Linked DNA regions of Homo sapiens. The protein of the gene in region 1 interacts with the protein of each later gene in a pairwise test. Each region holds a gene or a part of one and is shown in the gene's direction. Other genes may lie near its edges. The genes, in order: HGFAC and VSIG1.

The links.
Region 2: the proteins of HGFAC (region 1) and VSIG1 interact in binary tests that used the Homo sapiens proteins (3 or more experiments, as listed by UniProt).

The regions. Positions count from the first base shown.
Region 1 is NC_000004.12:3,437,530-3,445,196, forward strand, and holds the start of HGFAC (hepatocyte growth factor activator serine protease isoform 2 preproprotein), read left to right. Parts: upstream 1-4,438; 5' UTR 4,439-4,472; coding exon 4,473-4,589; intron 4,590-5,202; coding exon 5,203-5,383; intron 5,384-5,520; coding exon 5,521-5,617; intron 5,618-5,811; coding exon 5,812-5,891; intron 5,892-6,509; coding exon 6,510-6,632; intron 6,633-6,781; coding exon 6,782-6,913; intron 6,914-7,093; coding exon 7,094-7,204; intron 7,205-7,289; coding exon 7,290-7,464; intron 7,465-7,667. Other genes in the region: RGS12 (regulator of G-protein signaling 12), read left to right, coding at 1,926-2,155. UniProt on the Homo sapiens protein: Serine protease that hydrolyzes the inactive zymogen hepatocyte growth factor (HGFsc) to an activated disulfide-linked heterodimer, then initiating hepatocyte growth factor receptor signaling pathway.
Region 2 is NC_000023.11:108,076,065-108,079,970, forward strand, and holds the end of VSIG1 (V-set and immunoglobulin domain-containing protein 1 isoform 2 precursor), read left to right. Parts: intron 1-12; coding exon 13-154; intron 155-983; coding exon 984-1,317; 3' UTR 1,318-3,120; downstream 3,121-3,906.

The DNA.
Region 1 (7,667 bases):
CTGGAGCCATGCGGACCTGGTGACAAGAAGGAGATGGGCAGAACTGTCCCCTTGTCCCCTGGGGGCAGGGCTAGCTCCTAGCCCTGGCAGAACCTAGTAGGACACTTGTTGAATGAGCAGAGGCCTGACTGGGAGAAGTTTCTAGTCTCAGCTGCTCCACATGGACCCCTGGGCCTCCAGATGGCATCTCCACCGGGCCTGGCTGAGTAAGACACACAGGCCCCACACAGCTCCCACATGCTGGCTGGGCTGCTGCGTCGAGGCCAGGATGAGGGCCTCTGGGGCCACTGCTGGGACCTGTTCAAGAGAACGGGCTGGGCACGCTCAAGAGGGGAGTCACACCTTCCGCCCGCAGCCCGGACTTGTTCACAGATGCCTCATGGAGGCTGCTTCCGGAAGCTTGGACTGAGGGTGAGGAGGGGCACGCTGGGATTGGGGACCTTGGTGGCCACGGAGCCGCTGGGGCAGCAAGGACCCTGCGGCCATTTCAGGGACCTCAGAACTGTAGATCGAGGAGGGTCTTCACCTTCCCAGGCCTTCGATTCACCTGTGGAGGGCAGCAGTTGGTAGCAGGGACCCCCTGTCCCTGGTTCTCATGTGCCGGGGGCTGGCTCTTCCTGCCTCCTGTCTGCTGTGGGCCCAGGCCTGGGGCTCCTGCCACCCCATAGGCGCCTCAAGGCCTCCACCCTGGCATGGACATGACTGTCTCAGGGCCTCAGCCCCAGGCTCACTGAGGAAGGGAGCTCCTGGACCCCTGCCTAGGAGACACGCTAGGTACGCAGGAACCTGCCCCCGAAGCCTGCTCCTCTGGGTCGGCAACGTCACCCCCACCGCACAGATGGGGGGGTGGGGTCACTGGGCGGGTCGGCAACGTCACCCCCACCGTACAGATGGGGGGGTGGGGTCAGTGGGCGGGAAGGGCTGGGCTCTCCCAGCACGGGGGCTTCACTGCCCCTTCCCAGGCCCTGGGGTCCTGCCATGGAGCTCCGGGCGGCACATGAACCCAGCCATTCTGCGTGCACCGTTCACTTTCCTTGGCCCCAGCCTTCGTTGGCCCCTGGGGACTCCACCCTGGCATAGACACAACTGTGTCTTCCAGGGGTCCACGTGGAGGTCACCAGATGTGGCAGGGCAGTGACGCCCTGGGTAGGGAGGCCTCCCGGGGGTGCTGGCAAGGAGATGGCCTGCCCATGTTGGGTCTAGAAGCTTCCAAGGCCGGTTCAGGCAGCCGGGATCTCCTGGGGCTGGAGTGGGCATTGGAGCCAGAAGTGGGGCAAGAGTCACTGACCAGCCGGAAAGAGGGGCCTCAGTAGGGGGGCCAGGGATGGAGGGGGAGGGGACACGACCGGGAGGCCCAGAGCAGGGTGTGTACGGTGAAGACGGTGCTGAGGCAGCGAGGCAGGTGGGCGAGCAGGTGGCCAGCCTGGCAGGGTGGGATGGGGCAGCAGACACAGGGCTCAGGGCCCGTTCCACCAGGCCAAGAGGGTCCAGCCTATCTGGAACTGAACCCTAGTGCTCAGCCCCCTGGGGGTGGCCCTTGAGGATGGGCCCTGGGCCTGGGGGGGCCCCTGAGGACGCCCCCAGGAGGAATTAGGGGGGCAGTTGGGGCGGGGGCTCTGCCGGGGGCCCAGCTCTGTTCCTGAGCTGCAGTGGGGAAGCAGGGTGGTAGGGTTTCTGAGTGGGTCGGCTCCCCCACTTGGTGGCAGGTGTTATGTGGAGGGCTCTGGGAACACTGCACCTCCCCTGGGCGTACCTGCCCCAGCCTGGAGGCCCACAGCGGGACGCCAGCTGCCTCTGGGATGTGTTTGGGATATTTCAGGGACCCCTACCATGCTGTCTGTGCAGGGGCCTTCGGGGTAGGGGGTGGGTTCCGGGGGCCCAGGGCCGGGCCAGGCAAGTGACAGCTTCTCTTCTCCTTGTGACAGGAAGTGGGACCCATGGCAGCCGAGACCTCCCAGTCAACAGAATCATCGATGTGGATCTTGTAACTGGCTCGGCGCCCGGGCGGGATGGTGGCATAGCGGGGGCACAGGCTGGCCCTGGGAGGTCGCAGGCCAGTGGTGGGCCTCCTACATCAGACCTCCCTGGCTTGGGCCCCGTCCCGGGTGAGCCTGCTAAGCCCAAGACCAGCGCTCACCACGCCACCTTCGTCTGAGCTGCCCTGGCCTGGCCAACTCTCCTGTGGACATGTCGGGGTGGGGCAGCCCAGGTGGATTCTGTGGGCCTCAGGGGGGCCACCCTGGCCACCACACCCTCAGGAGCCCAGCCAGGAGGGCAGGGGGTGACCTCGCTGGAGGCACTGGCCCCGGACATTCGCCATGCTGGCCATGGGGCTCCCTGGCCCTGGCCTCCTGCTGCCCAATAAAGCATTTCTGAGGACCCAAGCGTCGGCCTGGTGCTGGGTGCTGGGGACACAGACTCCTCGTTCTCGGGGACTCCGAGCACATCCCCAGGAGGTCATGCAGGAAACAGAGGGGCCTGAGGAGGAGAAGTGCCCCAGGGTAAGGTCAAGGGGGCTTTGAGGAGAGGGAAGCTTGGCTCCTGGGGCCTGAGGGCCAGGACCAGATGGCAGAGACTGGCTCTCGCCGTCACGTGGGGACCCTGCCCCAGCCTTGTTTAGCAGGGTGGTCTGAGGGCCTTTCTGGGGAGGGACCATGTAAACTGCAACTGGACGGCAGAGGAAGTCTAGAAAGAGCCCTGGGCCTGTGCCAAGGCCCTGGGGCTAAGGAGGGTCTGATTACAGAAAGGGAACCAGGTGTGGCTGCAGGGGAGGCCGGGGCCTTGGGGGCTGGGTTGAGTCGGAAGAGGCAGGGCCATTCCCCAGGTTGCCTTGATGGAACCCCTAAAGCCAAGTACCCTCGGTACAGGGTGGTTGGTGAGCTCCTCAGACCATCCTAGAGGCCCGAGAGCACAGCCAGTCCCCTGGGGCTGTTCTAGAAGCTTCCAGGGAGTGGATGCACCCCACTTAGTGGTGCTCTAGGAAGGGGGCTGGGGGAGGGGTCGGAATGGAAGATGAAGCCCAGTGCCAGCTGTGTGTACCACCCACCACAAGCCCGCATCCATCCTGCTCCCAGCACCCACCATGCCTCCACATTCACCGTGCCCCCAGGGCCCACCATGACCTCCCCCCCAACCCCCAACCCCCCATTCACCGTGCCCCCAGCACCCACCATGCCTCCACATTCACCGTGCCCCCAGGGCCCACCATGACCTCCCCCCCAACCCCCAACCCCCCATTCACCGTGCCCCAGGGCCCACCATGACCTCCCCCCCAACCCCCAACCCCCCATTCACCGTGCCCCCAGGGCCCACCACGCCTCCATGTGCACTGTGCCCCCTGGGGCCCACGGTGTCAAGCTGGGTGGTCAGTGGGTGTCCATTCTCTCTCCCTCTGCACAGACAGGCAAATGGGGGGCAGAGAGAGGGGTTTTAGGGGATACAGGGAGGCAGCTTCAGCCCTCGCTGGTCTCCAGGCCACAGTGGTTCACTCACCCCTCCTCCCACCTCGGCAGCCCTGGGATGTCGCTGCTGACTCAGGAGGAACCCGAGGTGCCGTAGCGGCTGCTCCAATATTGCAGAAGAGGTTCCTCAGGCAGCTCTGCCCACAGCCCCAAGTCACGAATTCCGTGACTCCAGCTCCATCCCAGGCCCCAGGGTACCTGGCCCAGGGTTGTGCTGCCGCAGACTTGGCCTGTACCATCCAGGCGGCGGTGGGGAGCTGGGGTTGGAAAGGCTTCTTGGAGTGGACTCCTGGGTCTGTCTGGGAGACGGGGAGGAAGGGACACTCTGAACATCACCAGGGGCTGCTGGGGGGCCCTGGCCACCCCCAGAGTCAGAACAGGCAGGTGGGGCAGGATCTCAGGTCATCCTATGCTACACTCAGCCATTGCGTGGCCCCTCTCCTCCCTGTGCCTGGCCTTTTGGCCAGCCCTGGGGCCACCGAGAGGATGCAGCACCGAACCCTCCAGGAGCCCCCAGTGCTGCCGTCTGTGGGACAGGGACAATCCCATCCCCACTGCTACTGTCTGTGCTGTGCTGGGCACAGAGCTGGACACCTCCAAGGCCCAGCGCCCGTAGTGGCTCTCATCATGGACAATTCACAGGCAGATGGTGGCCAGCTCTGTGGCCTGCAGGGACTGGGAGCGGCGCCAGACCATCTAGGCCCCAACCTATCTGCATTATCCTGGAAGACTTCCTGGAGGAGGCTTCTAAGCTGAGGCCCAAGGACCATGTCAGGTCTAGGACTAGGACCAGTGCAGGCCGAGGCCAGAGAGACAGCTGGGCTTCCAGGTAGGGTCAAAGTGAGGTGGGCAGCAGGTGTGGGGGCCAGGGGACTCGGGGACTTCCTCTCCGGCTGGGCCCGCCTGACGTGGGAGGCAGCCAGGGTTAATCATTTCCACGAAGCCTTGACCCCACCTGCCTTGGCCGCTCTGCTCCCGCCTCCCACTGCCCCTCAGGCCAGCTCAGGAGCCATGGGGCGCTGGGCCTGGGTCCCCAGCCCCTGGCCCCCACCGGGGCTGGGCCCCTTCCTCCTCCTCCTCCTGCTGCTGCTGCTGCTGCCACGGGGGTTCCAGCCCCAGCCTGGCGGGGTGAGCACTGACCTTGTCGCAGTGCGACCAGAGGTTCCCAGTGGCTACTTGGGGTCCTTGGGAGGAGGCCAGAGGGAGGGTCGCCACAGAGCGTGGGGATTTGAGGGGGCGGGGGTCCGAGCAGGGGGCTTACGTTGAAAGCTGGCCCTCACAGGGCAGGTGGGTGCTGGACTGGCCTTGGAGGCTGGGGCCTGGGCTCACGGAGCCCCACCTGGGGGCTGTCATCCCTGTGCGGCCTGGCCTGGGCCCCTATGGGTCTGGGGGCTGCCCCCTCTCTCTGGACCTCTGTTGGGTCTGGATGCGTGAGGTTGGGGGAACCTCCCAGGGCCTCCTAGCTGCTCCCATCACCAAAAACTGACGTCAGGGTTTAAGCTTGGTGGGTAGCAGTGCCTGGGCCTGGGCAGTGACCCTGAGCAGGTGTTAACTAGGGGCCGAGGGCGGGGAAGGTGTCAGGGCCTGGCTGAGGCCTCAGGAATGTCGTGTGTCCTCCTGGAACCTGCTCCGAGATCTGGGGGCCCCAGTATGGAAACAGGCTCAGGGCTGTGACCTCCTGCCCGGCAGGACCTGAGTGTGAGGGTCTGTCCCACACTGACACCCTTTCTGCTCCTCCTAGAACCGTACGGAGTCCCCAGAACCTAATGCCACAGCGACCCCTGCGATCCCCACTATCCTGGTGACCTCTGTGACCTCTGAGACCCCAGCAACAAGTGCTCCAGAGGCAGAGGGACCCCAAAGTGGGGGGCTCCCGCCCCCGCCCAGGGCAGTTCCCTCGAGCAGTAGCCCCCAGGCCCAAGGTGGGTCAGGTGGGCCTGGGAGGAGGTGTCGTGCTTCACCTTAGGGCTGGGTGGGAGGAGCATGGCTGCGGCTGGAGGTCCTGAGGGGCTCGGGTGCCCCTCGAGGGAGCCCTGACCCTGCCACCCCCTCCCCACAGCACTCACCGAGGACGGGAGGCCCTGCAGGTTCCCCTTCCGCTACGGGGGCCGCATGCTGCATGCCTGCACTTCGGAGGGCAGTGCACACAGGAAGTGGTGGGTCCGGGCAGCCGGGGCACCCGAGCTGGGGTCACCTGCCCCACGCTGCCTGCTTTTCTGGGAGCCGGGCACACAGTAGGCGCTCACCACGCAGCAGGCGGACCCAGTGAACCCAGAGACCCTCCAGGGTGGTGGGGTGGGGTGGGGGGCCTCTGCCTGGGACCCCCATGCACGCAGGTGTCGCCCCCCAGGTGTGCCACAACTCACAACTACGACCGGGACAGGGCCTGGGGCTACTGTGTGGAGGCCACCCCGCCTCCAGGGGGCCCAGGTGGGTGCTGGGTTGGGTAGCCTGGGGCGGGCAGGGGGCACTGGGCCAGGCCAGAAGGGCCAAGGGGAGGATGGGGCGGACCCGGGCAGGGGTCCTGGCTGGAGGGGAGCAGAAGAGGAGCTCTGGGATTAACCCCGGTGGGTGCCACTTAGGGCCAGAGCCTCTCCCAGGTGGGACCTGCGTCTCATGGTGGCTGCGCGGCCATCGCTGGGGCCAAGGCGCCGCCTGGTGGTGAGGCCGGGCCCTGCAGCCACACAGGCGTGCCCCAGGCAGGGGACAGGTGGGCAGGGTCTGTGGGGTGCGGTGCCAGCCGCCCTGCTCACATGGGTCCTGGGACACATGGGAGGGGTCTGCTGCCTGACAGTGTGGGTGTCAGGCTTCCAGGAAGCCACGTGCACAGCTGGGCCAGTGGCCCAGGTGTTGAGTGGGGGACGCTGGGAGGAAGGGGAGGTCTGTGCCCCTCCCAGGGACCTTGCACCCCGAGGGGCGTAGAGAGGGCCCCTTTGCTCTCAGAGCCCCTCACTGGGGCCTGATGGACGCCTTAGCAAGCAGAGAATGTCACAGAGGGACCCTGAGCCTCCCAGTCCGCCCCTCACACCCCCTCCCGCATGTCCCCAGCTGCCCTGGATCCCTGTGCCTCCGGCCCCTGCCTCAATGGAGGCTCCTGCTCCAATACCCAGGACCCCCAGTCCTATCACTGCAGCTGCCCCCGGGCCTTCACCGGCAAGGACTGCGGCACAGGTGAGCTGGGCCTCGGAGGTCCGCAGGGGTCCAGGGGCCGGAGCAAGTCCCCGGAGGATGGGAGAACAGGTGGCTCCCGAGTGCAGGGCAGGGGCCCTGCACGGGGACAGCAGGTGGCAGGGTGTGAGGGCTTACTGTGCACCCCTCAGAGAAATGCTTTGATGAGACCCGCTACGAGTACCTGGAGGGGGGCGACCGCTGGGCCCGCGTGCGCCAGGGCCACGTGGAACAGTGCGAGTGCTTCGGGGGCCGGACCTGGTGCGAAGGCACCCGACATACAGGTGCGCCACGGGGTGTGAGCCGTGCCACTGACCCCTGACGGGTGTCCCTGTCCACACCCGAGTGGGAGGAATGGCCTGAGGTCACCCAGAAACAAGGGACAAGGGGTGGACCCCGGCCCCGACTCCGCTGTCGTGGGGCACTGCGCGGCCCCTGGCCCAGCTCCTCGGCCCTGCCCCCAGCTTGTCTGAGCAGCCCTTGCCTGAACGGGGGCACCTGCCACCTGATCGTGGCCACCGGGACCACCGTGTGTGCCTGCCCACCAGGCTTCGCTGGACGGCTCTGCAACATCGGTGAGTGGGTCAGCCCCCCGGGGTGCCCTGGGGCAGTGCCGGGTGGACCCACCGTGGGCCGGCCTCACTGCCCCTCTGCCCGCAGAGCCTGATGAGCGCTGCTTCTTGGGGAACGGCACTGGGTACCGTGGCGTGGCCAGCACCTCAGCCTCGGGCCTCAGCTGCCTGGCCTGGAACTCCGATCTGCTCTACCAGGAGCTGCACGTGGACTCCGTGGGCGCCGCGGCCCTGCTGGGCCTGGGCCCCCATGCCTACTGCCGGTCAGCACCACGCCGCTCCAGGCCGCCGCATGCGGGGCAGGCAGGATTTGTCCTGGGGAGAGGCCCCCCGGCTCCCTAGGACCCAGGCGGGGCCAGCTCCGTCCAGACAGGCCCCGGAACCTCTGCCTGGGAGGCTGCCCGAGGGAGGGCCACTCTCTTCCCACTGCTCCAGGTGCGGGGAACCGCCCTGCTGGGGGTTCCGA
Region 2 (3,906 bases), on another chromosome or scaffold:
TGTATCCTTCAGATCCAGAAGTTGGAATCATTGTTGGGGCCTTGATTGGTAGCCTGGTAGGTGCCGCCATCATCATCTCTGTTGTGTGCTTCGCAAGGAATAAGGCAAAAGCAAAGGCAAAAGAAAGAAATTCTAAGACCATCGCGGAACTTGAGTAAGCCTTCATTTTGTTGTCTTTACTTGAATACAAACATTTCTCAGGCATGTCTTTTTCAGTCATCAATTCCTAAGCACTCCTTTTAGTATAAGATATCAGAGGTATCTTTCTGTTTACTCTCATTGAATTTAAAAAAGAATGATGATGGCTGCTATTTATTGAGTGCTGTGTGCCAGGCTCTGTTCTAAGCACTTTATGTACATCAACTCATTTAGCTATCACAACAGTTTTAGGTCCAAGAAAACATTTTCATATATAATACTAACATACTTGTCTTAATACCAACATAGTCATGAAATATAATTTTAAATTTTTTTATGGAACAAGAGACCCACAAGGACAGTGCCCAGGGAACACAGAAGTTAGAATGTGGCCCAGCCCACAGCTCATGCTCTTAATCACTCTATTTCTTTCCTAGTGTGTATCTCACTCATTCATTTTTTTTCATCTCCTTGCTTCTACAACTATCTATTGGGTATCAACCAGGTGCCAAGTATTGTACTAGATGGAGTGAGAAATAGCGATACATCAGAGCTATGAATTTGGACCTTAAAGACCTTATTAGATTCTTAGACTCTTTCATTCTGACATTATTTTCCCACCTTGAAACACTGCTCTTTCTTAAACTTTCATGATATTGTTGAGACCTAACCTTTCTGAATCCAAAATGACCTATGGCCTGACAATGAGTCAGAATATCAGAAATAACAGATTTCCTGAAGTCTGGGACCTATGGTCATTGAAGCTACAGAACATATGGTTTCACATGAAATTTCAAAGTTAGCATCTCCCTAACTTGTTCTTTTCTGGGCCTTCTTTCTTGCAGGCCAATGACAAAGATAAACCCAAGGGGAGAAAGCGAAGCAATGCCAAGAGAAGACGCTACCCAACTAGAAGTAACTCTACCATCTTCCATTCATGAGACTGGCCCTGATACCATCCAAGAACCAGACTATGAGCCAAAGCCTACTCAGGAGCCTGCCCCAGAGCCTGCCCCAGGATCAGAGCCTATGGCAGTGCCTGACCTTGACATCGAGCTGGAGCTGGAGCCAGAAACGCAGTCGGAATTGGAGCCAGAGCCAGAGCCAGAGCCAGAGTCAGAGCCTGGGGTTGTAGTTGAGCCCTTAAGTGAAGATGAAAAGGGAGTGGTTAAGGCATAGGCTGGTGGCCTAAGTACAGCATTAATCATTAAGGAACCCATTACTGCCATTTGGAATTCAAATAACCTAACCAACCTCCACCTCCTCCTTCCATTTTGACCAACCTTCTTCTAACAAGGTGCTCATTCCTACTATGAATCCAGAATAAACACGCCAAGATAACAGCTAAATCAGCAAGGGTTCCTGTATTACCAATATAGAATACTAACAATTTTACTAACACGTAAGCATAACAAATGACAGGGCAAGTGATTTCTAACTTAGTTGAGTTTTGCAACAGTACCTGTGTTGTTATTTCAGAAAATATTATTTCTCTCTTTTTAACTACTCTTTTTTTTTATTTTAGACAGAGTCTTGCTCCGTCGCGCAGGCTGTGATCGTAGTGGTGCGATCTCGGCTCACTGCAACCTCCGCTCCCTGGGTTCAAGCGATTCTCCTGCCTGAGCCTCCTGAGTAGCTGGGACTACAGGCACGTGCCACCACGCCCGGCTAATTTTTTGTATTTTTAGTAGAGATGGGGTTTCACGTTGTTAGCCAGGATGGTCTCCATCTCCTGACCTCATGATCCGCCCACCTTGGCCTCCCAAAATGCTGGGATTACAGGCATGAGCCACTGCGCCCGGCCTCTTTTTAGCTACTCTTATGTTCCACATGCACATATGACAAGGTGGCATTAATTAGATTCAATATTATTTCTAGGAATAGTTCCTCATTCATTTTTATATTGACCACTAAGAAAATAATTCATCAGCATTATCTCATAGATTGGAAAATTTTCTCCAAATACAATAGAGGAGAATATGTAAAGGGTATACATTAATTGGTACGTAGCATTTAAAATCAGGTCTTATAATTAATGCTTCATTCCTCATATTAGATTTCCCAAGAAATCACCCTGGTATCCAATATCTGAGCATGGCAAATTTAAAAAATAACACAATTTCTTGCCTGTAACCCTAGCACTTTGGGAGGCCGAGGCAGGTGGATCACCTGAGGTCAGGAGTTCGAGACCAGCCTGGCCAACATGGCGAAACCCCTTCTCTACTAAAAATACAAAAATTAGCTGGGCGTGGTAGTGCATGCCTGTAATCCCAGCTACTTGGGAGGCTGAGGCAGGAGAATCGCTTGAACCCAGGAGGTGGAGGTTGCAGTGAGCCGAGATTGTGCCACTGCACTCCAACCTGGGTGACAGAGTGAGATTCCATCTGAAAAACAAAAACAAAAACAGAAAACAAACAAACAAAAAACAAAAAATCCCCACAACTTTGTCAAATAATGTACAGGCAAACACTTTCAAATATAATTTCCTTCAGTGAATACAAAATGTTGATATCATAGGTGATGTACAATTTAGTTTTGAATGAGTTATTATGTTATCACTGTGTCTGATGTTATCTACTTTGAAAGGCAGTCCAGAAAAGTGTTCTAAGTGAACTCTTAAGATCTATTTTAGATAATTTCAACTAATTAAATAACCTGTTTTACTGCCTGTACATTCCACATTAATAAAGCGATACCAATCTTATATGAATGCTAATATTACTAAAATGCACTGATATCACTTCTTCTTCCCCTGTTGAAAAGCTTTCTCATGATCATATTTCACCCACATCTCACCTTGAAGAAACTTACAGGTAGACTTACCTTTTCACTTGTGGAATTAATCATATTTAAATCTTACTTTAAGGCTCAATAAATAATACTCATAATGTCTCATTTTAGTGACTCCTAAGGCTAGTCCTTTTATAAACAACTTTTTCTGACATAGCATTTATGTATAATAAACCAGACATTTAAAGTGTACAATTTGATGAGTTTTGACAGAGCACATACCCATGAAACCACCACACCCATCTAGAGAGAAAACATTTCCATCAGCCCAAAATGTTTCTTCATGCCCCTTTGTGCGATCCCACCATTGCCCTGGACCTAGGAAATCACTCATTGTTTTCCATCACTAGAGGTTAACTTTGCCTTTTCTTGGCCCTCATACATATGGGATGATACAGTATGTACTTTTTGTGTCTCACTTCCTTCTAAGGTGAATCCTTTTTAAACAAAGTAGTGAGTTTCTCATTTATCACTTTCAGATTTTCATGTAAAATATTTTCTTAAACTGCAAACTCCTTTCTATATAAATCATAACCATACACAGATTGAGGTAGAGTCTCTGTAGGTTTTAAGGAGAGTTAAAATGGAAATTAACATTACACTTATCTAGAGCCATGGAGAGAAGAGATAGCAAGCGTTTATTTCTGCATTTTCTTCGATGCGTCCATTTTCAGAAAATGTCAGGGATTTCTGATGCATTTATAATTTCATTCATACTAAATATGATAGTATGGTATATGGTGTCTGATGGACACAAGAAGCAAAATAATGAAGGTCTTAAGAATGACCTAATATTTAGAGATTAAAAAGTAAACAACAGTGTAAACATCTCAATTACCAGAATGCCCAAGTAGCTGGAATTCATTTTTCCTTTCCATTTTTATTATAGAGGCAAATCGCAAGAGACTGACATGTAATAGTCAACAATTACACCCCAAAATTTTTGATGGATCAGTGCAGTCCAGGAAAGAAAGCACT